Linked DNA regions of Homo sapiens. The protein of the gene in region 2 interacts with the protein of the main gene of each other region in a pairwise test. Each region holds a gene or a part of one and is shown on either strand. Other genes may lie near its edges. The genes, in order: CRX, M1AP and POLR3GL.

Evidence for each region.
Region 1: the proteins of M1AP (region 2) and CRX interact in binary tests that used the Homo sapiens proteins (3 or more experiments, as listed by UniProt).
Region 3: the proteins of M1AP (region 2) and POLR3GL interact in binary tests that used the Homo sapiens proteins (3 or more experiments, as listed by UniProt).

What each region holds. Positions count from the first base shown.
Region 1 is NC_000019.10:47,838,909-47,842,658, reverse strand, and holds part of CRX (cone-rod homeobox protein), read right to left. Parts: intron 3,340-3,750; coding exon 2,692-3,339; 3' UTR 1-2,691. UniProt on the Homo sapiens protein: Transcription factor that binds and transactivates the sequence 5'-TAATC[CA]-3' which is found upstream of several photoreceptor-specific genes, including the opsin genes.
Region 2 is NC_000002.12:74,646,678-74,650,427, forward strand, and holds the start of M1AP (meiosis 1 arrest protein), read right to left. Parts: upstream 1,654-3,750; 5' UTR 1,588-1,653; exon of another isoform or gene 660-1,587; coding exon of another isoform or gene 598-659; intron 1-597. UniProt on the Homo sapiens protein: Required for meiosis I progression during spermatogenesis.
Region 3 is NC_000001.11:145,967,552-145,971,301, reverse strand, and holds part of POLR3GL (DNA-directed RNA polymerase III subunit RPC7-like), read right to left. Parts: intron 1-3,750. UniProt on the Homo sapiens protein: DNA-dependent RNA polymerase catalyzes the transcription of DNA into RNA using the four ribonucleoside triphosphates as substrates. Specific peripheric component of RNA polymerase III which synthesizes small RNAs, such as 5S rRNA and tRNAs.

The DNA.
Region 1 (3,750 bases), on a different chromosome or scaffold from region 2:
TCTTCCTCTGTTTATATTTTCATCCCACACTGGACTCTTGAGCCACTCCTGGGTTATTTTTGTTGTTGTTATTATTGAGACGGAGTTTCGCTCTTGTGACCCAGGCTAGAGCACAGTGGCACAATCTCTGCTCTCTTCAACCTCCGCCTCCCGGGTTCCAGCAATTCTCCTGCCTCAGCCTCCCGAGTAGCTGGGATTACAGGCGCGTGCCACCATGCCCGGCTAATTTTTGTATTATTAGTAGAGACAGGGTTTCACCATGTTGGCCAGGCTGGTCTCGAACTCCTGACCTCAGGTGATCCACCCGCCTCGGCCTCCCAAAGTGCTGGGATTACAGGCGTGAGCCACCGCACCCGGCCCACTCCTGGGCTTAATGTCCCAGAACCCAGCATGACTCAGGCCTATGAGAGATGAACACGTTTTATGTTGAATAAAAACCTCTTTGTGGGCTCTAGAGATCAGGGTGTACCCCTCAGGGGGTCTAGGCTGTGTGCACCTCTTCTGGTCTAGTGCTGGAAACGTCATCTGATACCTCCCGGCCTCTCTTCACATCTCGCCTTTCTCCTGACCCTGGCTGCTGCTGACGGTGTGTACCAACTCGTAAGCATATATTGTGCCCTATCTCTTCCCAACTCTTAGTTCAGTGACCTCCGGTTGCTAGCTTGAAGTCAGCCGTGGTGGGAGTATTTACACCACGGAAACTGACAAACACTCCACAACCAACCTTTTCCTCTTCCTTGGAGAGCCCATTGTTAGACCTCTGCCAGCACACCACTGTCTTCCTGCCCTACTTTTTTTTTTACACCTTGCCTTGTGAACTCCACCAATGAAGGGCTCTTGGAACCCGCCTCCCCACCCAAAAATGAAAGGAGAACTCGGACTGAGAAGGCAGGGACCCAGCACCCAACTTCTGAGCATCAAATGACCTCAATCCGTCTTCAGGTTCTCACAAGTGCTTGCCAGTGTCACCATAAGTAAGATTCTATTTCAAGAAATAATGGTGCCACCCCAGGAAAATGTCCTCAAGCCAAGCTCTATTTTCCAATCCCACCATCAAAACTGAAAACCAAAAAAAAAAAAAAAAAAATCTAAAAAAGGGAATGTATGTTTGAAATGTAGGGCTGCCTCCTCCAAATCTATTTCCCCCTCTTCCTATCTCTTGTTTATTTACAGATGGGAGTCTGTCTAGCTGCTGCTTCTCTGTGAAATAGCCACAACTATAGGTGGTACGTCCCAAGCAGCTACCCCAGTTCCACCAGTGTCTCACCTTTAGAAAATCCTAAAACAAAAGAAAAAAGGAGTAGAGATGGAACAGGCAAGGTGCCTTTCATTTCCCTACCAAATACACACATTCCCAATGTGCTAATGAGCGAATGAGTGATAAAATGTCTTTAAAAAGAAACTAAGAAGAAAAAGTACATATATGTATAGCTACATATATGAATGTAGATCTTTGTCTCTCAAACGGTCCCCTAAACCTACCATGTAAGCCTGACATTTGTGAAGTCTGTGAAATTCCCAGATAATTTATTTTTAATGTAACCACATCATTGGCCTAAGGTTTCCCGACGGGGCTTCTTAAAGTCTGTCTTTGGAATTTCTAGAAAGGTCCCTAACCATATGCTAAAGAAGTGTCCACGTGTAGGGCCAGGCACAATGGCTCATGCCTGTAATCCCAGCACTTTGGGAGGCCGAGGCAGGCGGATCACTTGAGGTCAGGGGTTCCAGACCAGCCTGGCCAACATGGTAAAACCCTGTCTCTACTAATAATAGAAAAATTAGCCGGGCATGATGGAGCACACCTGTAATCCCAGCTAATTGGGAGATTGAGGCAGGAGCAACGCTTCAACCCGGGAGGTGGAGGTTGCAGTCAGTGAGCTGAGATCACACCACTGCACTCCAGCCTAAGCAAAAGAGTGAGACTCCGTCTCAATTAAAAAAAAAAAAAAAAAAAAGGGCCGGGCGCGGTGGCTCACGCCTGTAATCCTAGCACTTTGGGAGGCCGAGGCGGGCGGATCACGAGGTCAGGAGATCGAGACCATCCTGGCTAACACGGTGAAACCCCGTCTCTACTAAAAATACAAAAAAAATTAGCCGGGCCTGGTGGTGGGCATCTGTAGTCCCAGCTACTCGGGAGGCTGAGGCAGGAGAATGGCGTGAACCCGGGAGGTAGAGCTTGCAGTGAGCTGAGATCGTGCCACTGCACTCCAGCCTGGGCGACAGAGCTAGACTGTGTCTGCAAAACAAAAACAAAACAAAAAAAAAAATTCTGTCCACGTGGAAAGTTAAGTTATCAAGCCCCCCTACCTGCTTGTTCAAGGGCACGGTGATTCTGACCTAAACATGACCCCAAATCAACTGCAAGTTTGGTTTGACTTCTTCTTGGAGCAAGTTCTCAGCACCACTTTCTGAAGCCTGGAGCTCGTGGTGTACTTCAGCGGTCACAATCGTGCCAGACGGTGTTAGGGTTGAGAGAATCACTAGGACCTGTGAGCTGTCCCAGGAGAGGGAGGAGCCTCTCCCTGTGGAGGAAAGGGGTGGTCTCTGTAAGCTGAACACCGAGCTGTCAGAAGGACAGCTGGTTCGGGTTGCTTTCTCAGGAATGCCATCCCGGGATCTAAACTGCAGGGAAGCAGATTCAGAAGAGAAAGGGTCCCGAGGCCCGATGGAGAGAGATGGAGACTGCGTCCTCTACAAGATCTGAAACTTCCAGGCACTCTGATCCTTGTAGTCCAGAGGGTCCATGGGATTGTAGGTGAATTTCCAGGTGCCCGTGGGGTCCTTGAATTCCAAGCTATCCACGGGGCTGTAGGCGCCATAGCTCTGGCCTGATAGGGAGGTGGGGGACTGGGCCAGGGAAGGTCCCACGGAGGGGCCAGAGAGGGGGCTAAGAGCCGGGCCCCCTAGCTGGGGCACCATGGGAGAAAGGTAGGGGTCTAGGCCGCTGAAATAGGAGCTCGGAGACCCATAGGCGGAGGGGGAAGAGCAGAAAGCGGAGGCCGGGGCGTAGGTCATGGCATAGGGGGCGGAGGTCAGAGACGGCCCTGAGGCCACCAGCCCAGCCCGCTGCGCCTCAGGCAAAGGGGACTCTGAGGCTGGGCTCCAGATGGACACAGTGGCCACTGCCGTGGTTGGGGAGCCTGAGGGGCCGGGCAGAGGGGGACTGTAGGAATCTGAGATGCCCAGAGGGTCTGGACACACATCTGTGGAGGGTCTTGGGGACGTGCCCGCCTTCCTCTTGGCAGGCCGGGCCTTGGCCTGGCCCCCTGGGGGCTGCTGCTGCTGTTTCTGCTGCTGTCGCTGCTGCCTGCATTTAGCCCTCCGGTTCTTGAACCAAACCTGGGGGATAAGAGCGGAGATGGGGGTGGGTAAGTGGGGAAGAGGCCCAGGAGAGCCGCAGGGTGCCCGGGGATGAGGACACTTATTGGTGAGAGGTGCTGGGTTCACATCTGTCTACTTTGCATCCAGCTGTGGGGCGTCTATTCACCCATCCATCCATCTATCCATCCAATCATACCTGCATGTGTGCATGAACACATGCATACATCATACCCATGTGCATTCATCCCATCCGTCTAATGCAAACATGCACACGTACAATTATACATGCATACACCATACGCACATACATCATGCCTGCATTTACCCATCGATATGATCATACATACATCATACACATATTCATCCACCCATCTAATACAAACATGCACACGTACAGTTATACATATATACACCATACGCACATATATC
Region 2 (3,750 bases):
AATAAAACACTTTAGCTCTCAATGTTTCTAATGTTTTAAGTTAGTGTATGAAATAGTTTTACTGTTTTACATTTCCCTATACAGTTAGTAAGAAAGTTTTAGTGTTTTGACAATTTTTCAAGGTTATAGAACAACTGTAATTTTTCCCATTGGTGTTTAAGATCTCTTTGAATGGTTTCAGCTTGCAGTCATTTTTCAATCCCACACTAATGTGCAATTGGAAGACTGTATTTTAAATGAGGTAAGAGGCAGCTCTCTTCCTTACATCCTCAAACATCATCAATTCATGCATCTGATGTGTCTGGGCATAGTACTAAACAGGCTCTGACCTTATTCTGACCCTATACTCTCCACTTTTGCCAAGAACACTCGCTTAATGAATTCTCCCTGCAAACTGGTTAAAACTGGAACTGGGCCTTGAACCACTCCAAACCACCAAGTTATGCCCAAACTAAAAACCCTCCAAGGACTTCCAATTACACCACTGGAAACAGAATCCAATATCTTTACCCTGGCCCTAAAGTTCTGCTTGTGCCTTCTGCCCAACTCTCCATCCTCACACTAGGCCCTCCCCTGCCCGCACCCCGGGAGATCCACCTCTCACAGATCGGCTTCTCGCTGTGTCTGCCTCTGCGGATGTTCTGTTCCGTGCTGAGCATTCTAGGTTAGGGCCCCTTTACAAGCCCTCATTCACTTTGTCGCGTGATAAACGATTCAATGGTTCTCCCTCTGGCAGGGCCCTATTAAAGATTTCGTGGGCCCTAAGGCACTTTCGTCTTCGTGGACCCCTTCCTCCATTAAAAAAAGATTAAAAGAAGTTAATGGATTTTGTAGGCCCTAAAAATCTCATTTCCCCCTCCTGATGTGAGAAAAAAATCAAAACACTTTCTTTGACTTCATGGGTTCACTTTAAACGAAATGAAAACATTCTCGTGGCCGGGCACGGTGGCTCACGCCTGTAATCGCAGCACTTTAGGAGGCCGAGGCGGGCGGATCACGAGGTCAGGAGTTCGAGAGCAGCCTGGCCAACATAGGGAAACCATGTCTCTACTAAAAATATAAAAAAATTAGCCAGGCGTGGTGGCGGGAGCCTGTAATTCCAGCTTACTCGAGAAGCTGAGGCGGAGAATCACTTGAACCCGGGAGGCGGAGGTTGCAGTGAGCCGAGATCACGCCATTGCACTCCAGCTTGGGCAACAAGGGTGAAACTCCGTCTCAAAAACAAAGCAAAACCAGAAGAAAAAAAATTCTCGTGGCTCCCTGAAGCCTCCGTGGTCCCTCGGCATGGCGCCTACCGTGCCTGGCGGATCAGCAGCCCGGCCCTCGGGCCTGGGGGCCCCGCGGAGGAAGCTCCGGGCCCAGACTCCGCGCAGGCCTGGCCGCCCAGAACAGTATGCGGAGGGATGACTCCGACAGCGATTTCGGAGCCTCTCTCGGCGTCAGTCTTGCGCCGGCACCCGCCACGGCCAGCGCAACCAACACCTGCCTGAGGACTGGCCCGAGCTCGGCCCACGCCCAGCCCAGCCTGCGAAGTGGTGCCGGCTGCTCTCGGGCTGCCCTCCCTCCCCGAGGCGTGGAGAACCGTACCTGTCTTCGGAAGACGGAGGCCCCCTCACCTGGTCCTCCCGGCTCTCAGCGTGCGCCCGCGCGTTCGGAGGCGCCCCCCTCAGGCCGGCGCGGCTGGGCGGGAGGCTCACTGCGGGCAAGGCGGGGCCTGGCTGCCTCAGGGTGCGCTTCAGGTGGCGCTTCAGGAAAACGGTCTCCAAGTCCCTAGATACCCTGAGAACAGTCCTTCTTTGTCCCTTAGGTAGAATTTTGTCTATTTGTTGGAAATGCTGTGCTAAACCTGACATTTTTCTTTTTCTACCCCTTCCCATGAAACATGCCAGTAGCTCCCCCACCGACCGTTTTCTTGGTTTTAACTTTTCCCTTCCACATCATTTCCTTCAGCCAGTCGCTATTTTGTTCACTAAACATCTGTGGTGGGCACGTTATGTGCCACGCATTGTGCTAGGATTGGAGTACAGTGGATGTACAGACAATGGTCACTGCCCTCATGGAAGTTATAGCTGCCTTCACAAAGTTCTTTTAAGTCTTTTCAAACTCCTGTATTCCAAGAGGGTCTGTCGCTCTCTTCATACTCATTCTCGCTTACTTGAGGTTGATTCCCATAGTCCCTTTGACGAACTCCAGATGGGGTAGGAGCGTCCTGGTCCTTAACAGTTGGTTGGTCTGGGTCTTCAACTCTGGTTAAAAAGGAATTCTCTGAATTAGTCCACAGGAGAGGGAAAGATAATGCTAGTTCCAAGCTAGAAATGTACAAGCAGTTTTCCTTGTTTTCTTTATTATTATTATTGTTATTTTCTCAGTTCATTGTCTAGATGCAGGTTGGAGGTGGGGTGGGGCAATATTTCAATGAGTGGCACAGGATAGGTTAGATGTTTCAACAGGAAAAGAGTTGCCTGCTTGTATTCTAGTCCCACTAAACCATTTTGCTCCTATCAACTGTTCCTCAGGTAAGAACAGAACTATTTAACCTATGTCCTTTTTTAAACACTATAATCTGATATTCAATAGAGTTCCTGTGTTTCAGTTTAAAGGGTAGCTTCTCAACAGCTCTTTCCCCCCATATAGTCCAAATTAGCCTTTCTGTCTCTAATCTCCAGATTATCGTTTCCACTGATGTTAGAATTGTCCTTGTAAAAATATTTTGATCATATCATTCTTTGTCTTAAAAATGGCTTATGTTTCCTTTTCGGTTAGAGGGTCCATTATAACTGACCCCACCTACCTTACTAGGCTCAACCCCAGCATTACCTGTCTTACTCCCCTTTGTGTTGCTATACCAGAATACCACAGAACAACTAACTTGTAAATAAAGGAAATGTATTCTTAAATTCTGGAGGGTAGGAATTCCAAGGTTGAGAATCCCACATCTAGTGAGGGCATTTTTTCTGTGTCATCCCATGGCAGAAGGCAGAAGGGCAAGGGGTACAAAAGAGCAAGACAGCAATAGGGAGCTGAACTCACTTTTACAACAAACCCACTCTCTCAATAACTAACTCATTTCCAAGATAATGACATTAATTCATTTATGGGGGCAGAGCCCTTATGGCCTAATCACCTCTTGTTAGGCCCCACCTCTGAACACTATTCCATTGGGTACTAAGTTTCCAGCAAATGAACTTTGGGGGACGCATTCAAACTTGAGCACTAGCCTCACTCCAAACCATACCACCCATTGCTCCTACCTACTATTAATTTCTTTCCGTACCCTCTATAGCATTTATTAAAAATATGCAAAGAACTGTACCAGAAATGGGGACTATGACATAAGAATTGTTTTCTGAGGGTGATAAACTATAATGGTCATGAGAAAGCACCTTGCAGACTTTAAACTACAAGGAGTGTAACTGACCAAGGGCATCAGCTGCTGCCTTAGAAATCTACTGCCACGACTGGGCTCCGTGGTTCACGCCTGTAATCCCAGCACTTTGGGAGGCCGAGGCGGGTGGATCACCTGAGGTCAGGAGTTCGAGACCAGCCTGACCAACATGGAGAAACCCCATCTCTACTAAAAATCCAAAATTAGCCGGGCATGGTGGTGCATGCCTGTAATCCCAGCTACTCGGAAGGCTGAGGCAGGAGAAACACTTGAACCCGGGAGGCAGAGGTTGCGGTGAGCCAAGATTGCACCACTGCATTCCAGCCTGGGCAACAAGAGCAAAAACTCTGTCTCAAAAAAAAAAA
Region 3 (3,750 bases), on a different chromosome or scaffold from region 2:
GGTAAAAACCAAAGAAATGTCAATCAAGTATCAACCTTAGTTAATAATAATGTATCAGTATTCATTCATTAATTGTAACAAATATACGAATCAATTTTTTTTTTTTTTTTTTTTTTGAGATGGAGTTTCGCTCTTGTTGCCCGGCTGGAGTGCAATGGCGCGATCTCGGCTCACTGCAACTTCCGCCTCCCAGGTTCAAGCGATTCTCCTGCCTCAGCCTGCTGAGTACCTGGGATTACAGGCATGCGCCACCACGCCTGGCTAATTTTATACTTTTTTTAGTACAGAGGGGGTTTCTCCATGTTGGTCAGGCTGGTCTCCACCTCCCGACCAGGTGATCCATCCGCCTCGGCCTCCCAAAGTGCTAGATTACAGGCATGAGCCACTGCGCCCGGCATTTTTTTTTTTTTTTTTTTTTTTTTTTTTGAGATGGAGTTTCGCTCTTGTTGCCCGGCTGGAGTGCAATGGCGCGATCTCGGCTCACTGCAACCTCCGCCTCCCGGGTTCAAGCGATTCTCCTGCCTCAGCCTCCCGAGTAGTTGGGATTACAGGAGCCCGCCACCGTGCCCGGCTAATTTGTTTTTGTATTTTTAGTAGAGACGGGGTTTCACCATCTTGGCCAGGTTGGTCTCGAACTCCTGACCTCGTGATCCACCCGCCTCAGCCTCCCAAAGTGCTGGGATTACAGGCGTGAGTCACCGCGGCCGGCCAATCTACAATGTTAATAGGGGAAACTGTGCACTGGGACAAATGGGAACTCTTGGCACTATCTGCTAAATTTTTCCGTAAGTCTTAAATTGTTCTAAAATATATAATCTATTAATTAAAACAAAAACAAAAAACAAAAAAAACTCGAGGCTGGGCGTGGTGGTTCACACCTGTAATCCCAGCACTCTGGGAGGCTGGGGTGGGATGACTACTTAAGTCCAGGAGTTTGAGACCAGCCGGGGCAACATAGTGAGATTCCATCTCTACAAAAAATAAAAAAATTAGCCAGGCATGGTGGCACATGCCAGTAGTCCCAGCTACGTGGGAGACTGAGGTGGAAGGATCGCTTCAGCCCGGGAGATAAGAGGATTCAGTGAGCCATGATCATGTCACTGCACTCACCCTGGGTGACAGAGACCTTGTCTCAAAACAAAAAGCTAAAACAAAAATCAAGTAGCAATTCAAAATTCCCAAGAGATTAGTTGGTGAAAAAAATATTTAAAAATAATATGTAGAAGGTAATCTTCTGTCAGAAATACATACACACATATGAATTAAAAATCTGTTATAGAAGGATATGTACCAAAAATTAACAACGGTTAATTTGAAGGATGAGGGTTTTTTGAATTTTTTCTGGTGGGGAGAGTTGTGTATCTTTTTTTTTTTTTTTTTGAGACAGAGTCTTGCTCTGTCACCCAGGCTGGAGTGGTGCAGTGGTGCAATCTCGGCTCACCGCAGCCTCCACCTTACGGGTTCAAGCAATTCTCCTGCCTCAGCCTCCTGAGTGGCTGGGATTACAGGCACCCACCACCATGCTTAGCTAATTTTTGTATTTTTAGTAGAGAGGGGGTTTTCCCATGTTGGCCAGGCTGGTCTCAAACTCCTGACCTCGTGATCTGCCTGCCTCAGCCTCCCAAAGTGCTGGGATTACAGGCATGAGCCACCATGCCCAGCCAGGTTATGTATGCTTTGTTTTTTTCTATACTGAATAGAATACTATAACAACATTAAAATATTAATTTAAAAATTTTTGGCTGGGCATGGTGGCTCATGCCTGTAATCCCAACACTTTGGGAGGCCGAGGCAGGTGGATCACAAGGTCAAGGGATCGAGAACATCCTGGTCAACATGGCAAAACCCCGTCTCTACTAAAATACAAAAATTAGCTGGGCATGGTGGTGTGCGCCTGTAGTCCCAGCTACTCAGGAAGCTGAGGCAGGAGAATCGCTTGAACCCGGGAGGTGGAGGTTGCAGTGAGCCGAGATGGCGCCACTGCACTCCAGACTGGCAAAAGAGCGAGACTGTGTCTCAAAAAAATTTTTTTTTAATGGGCCAGTTGTGGTGGTTCATGGAGGTAATTTCAGCACTTTGGGAGGCCAGGGCAGAAGGATCACTTGGGCCCAGGCAGTCGAGGCTGCAGTGAGCTATGATCACACCACTGTGCACCAGTCTGGGCAACAGAGTGAGACCGTGTCTCAATAAATAGATAAATAAAATTTAAATGTCGTAACAGAATACTAAATGAGATTAATAATCTGTAGCTAGGAGAGGGTAGAAAAATGTATATCTGAGGAATCTGGGAAGTTTCAAGCCCAACTGCCATAAAAAAAATTGAGGAAACAATGGCTGTTGGTTAAGATATCAAATTGCAATCTGTTTGAAAAGAGCATATTAAGGGAGAGAAGATGTCTCATGGAGACTAGAGAAATAATAAGAATTTGTTGGCTGGGCGTGGTGGCTCATGCTTGTAATCCCAGCACTTTAGGAGGCTGAGGTGGGCGGATCACGAGGTCAGGAGTTCAAGACCAGCCTGACCAACAAAGTGAAACCCCGTCTCTACTAAAAATACAAAAAATTAGCCAGGCGTGGTGGTGCACGCCTGTAATCCCAGCTACTCAGGAGGCCGAGGCAGGAGAATAACTTGAAATCAGGAGGCAGAGGTTGCAGTGAGCCAAGATTGTGCCACTGCACTCCAGCCTGGGCAACAGAGCGAGACTCTGTCTCAAAAAAAAAAAAAAAAGAATTTGTCACCGTGTCTTCAGCCCCTTTTAAGCGAGAGAACATTCTAACCAGCTGGTTAAGTATCTTTCCACTTGACAGATATAGTTCTGGCAGTGGAGATAGGAGCTGCTGTGACTGCAAAGCAATGAAGAGTCAATAAATGGCCATGAGTTTGAGGTTAGACAAATTCCACACCATTTCTACACATTAAATGAGTGATCCTCTAAGAATGCAGGGGAAAAAGAAGACAAAATTTTATTTAATACAGGTTGGGAAATAAACCATCCATCTGCCCCATTCATCTTAGGAATCTATAGGGAGTCTCTGCTATTAAAGATTGTGATGGAGTTAAAATTCTTGAGGATACTTAAGGTCTCCCATAATCTAGTCACAATCTGCTCCTCCTTAACATCAACCTTTCCAGAGAGTTTACCCCTGTACTCTGTTTTACTCCAAACAACACTCATATACACTATGCTCATTCCCAATTATTCATACATATATATTGTGGTGGAAGTTACTGAGAGGCAGGTTTCAACTAAACATACAGAAAAACACTAACAATTACATCAAATTTAAGGAAGGCAGTACATGTAGAGGTTAAGAATATGGTTTTGAATCCCAGTTCAATTTCCTAGCTACAAAACTCTGGTAATTTATTTATTGTCTCTAAACCTGTTTCCTCATCTGTAAAATGGGAATAAAAATAACAATAATAGAATCATTTCACTCAACAAATATTTACTGAGTGCTTACTAGGTGTGCCAGGCACTGTTCTAGATTCTATGGATATAGCAGTGTGCAAAACAGACAAAAACATGCTGCACCCACGGGGTTTAAATGGAGCTTTCATTCCAGTGGAGGCATCAGCAAACAAACAATACTTCAAGCCATGAGACTAGGTGAGACCCCTAAAGGAGTGGATGTGGACAGAGAAAATAAGAAATCCAGGCACTGAGGCCTGGGGCACGCTGATGTGTAGAATTTGCTATACATGTAATAAATAAAGCAAGAAATTAACACCCTTAAAATCTTGGAAAT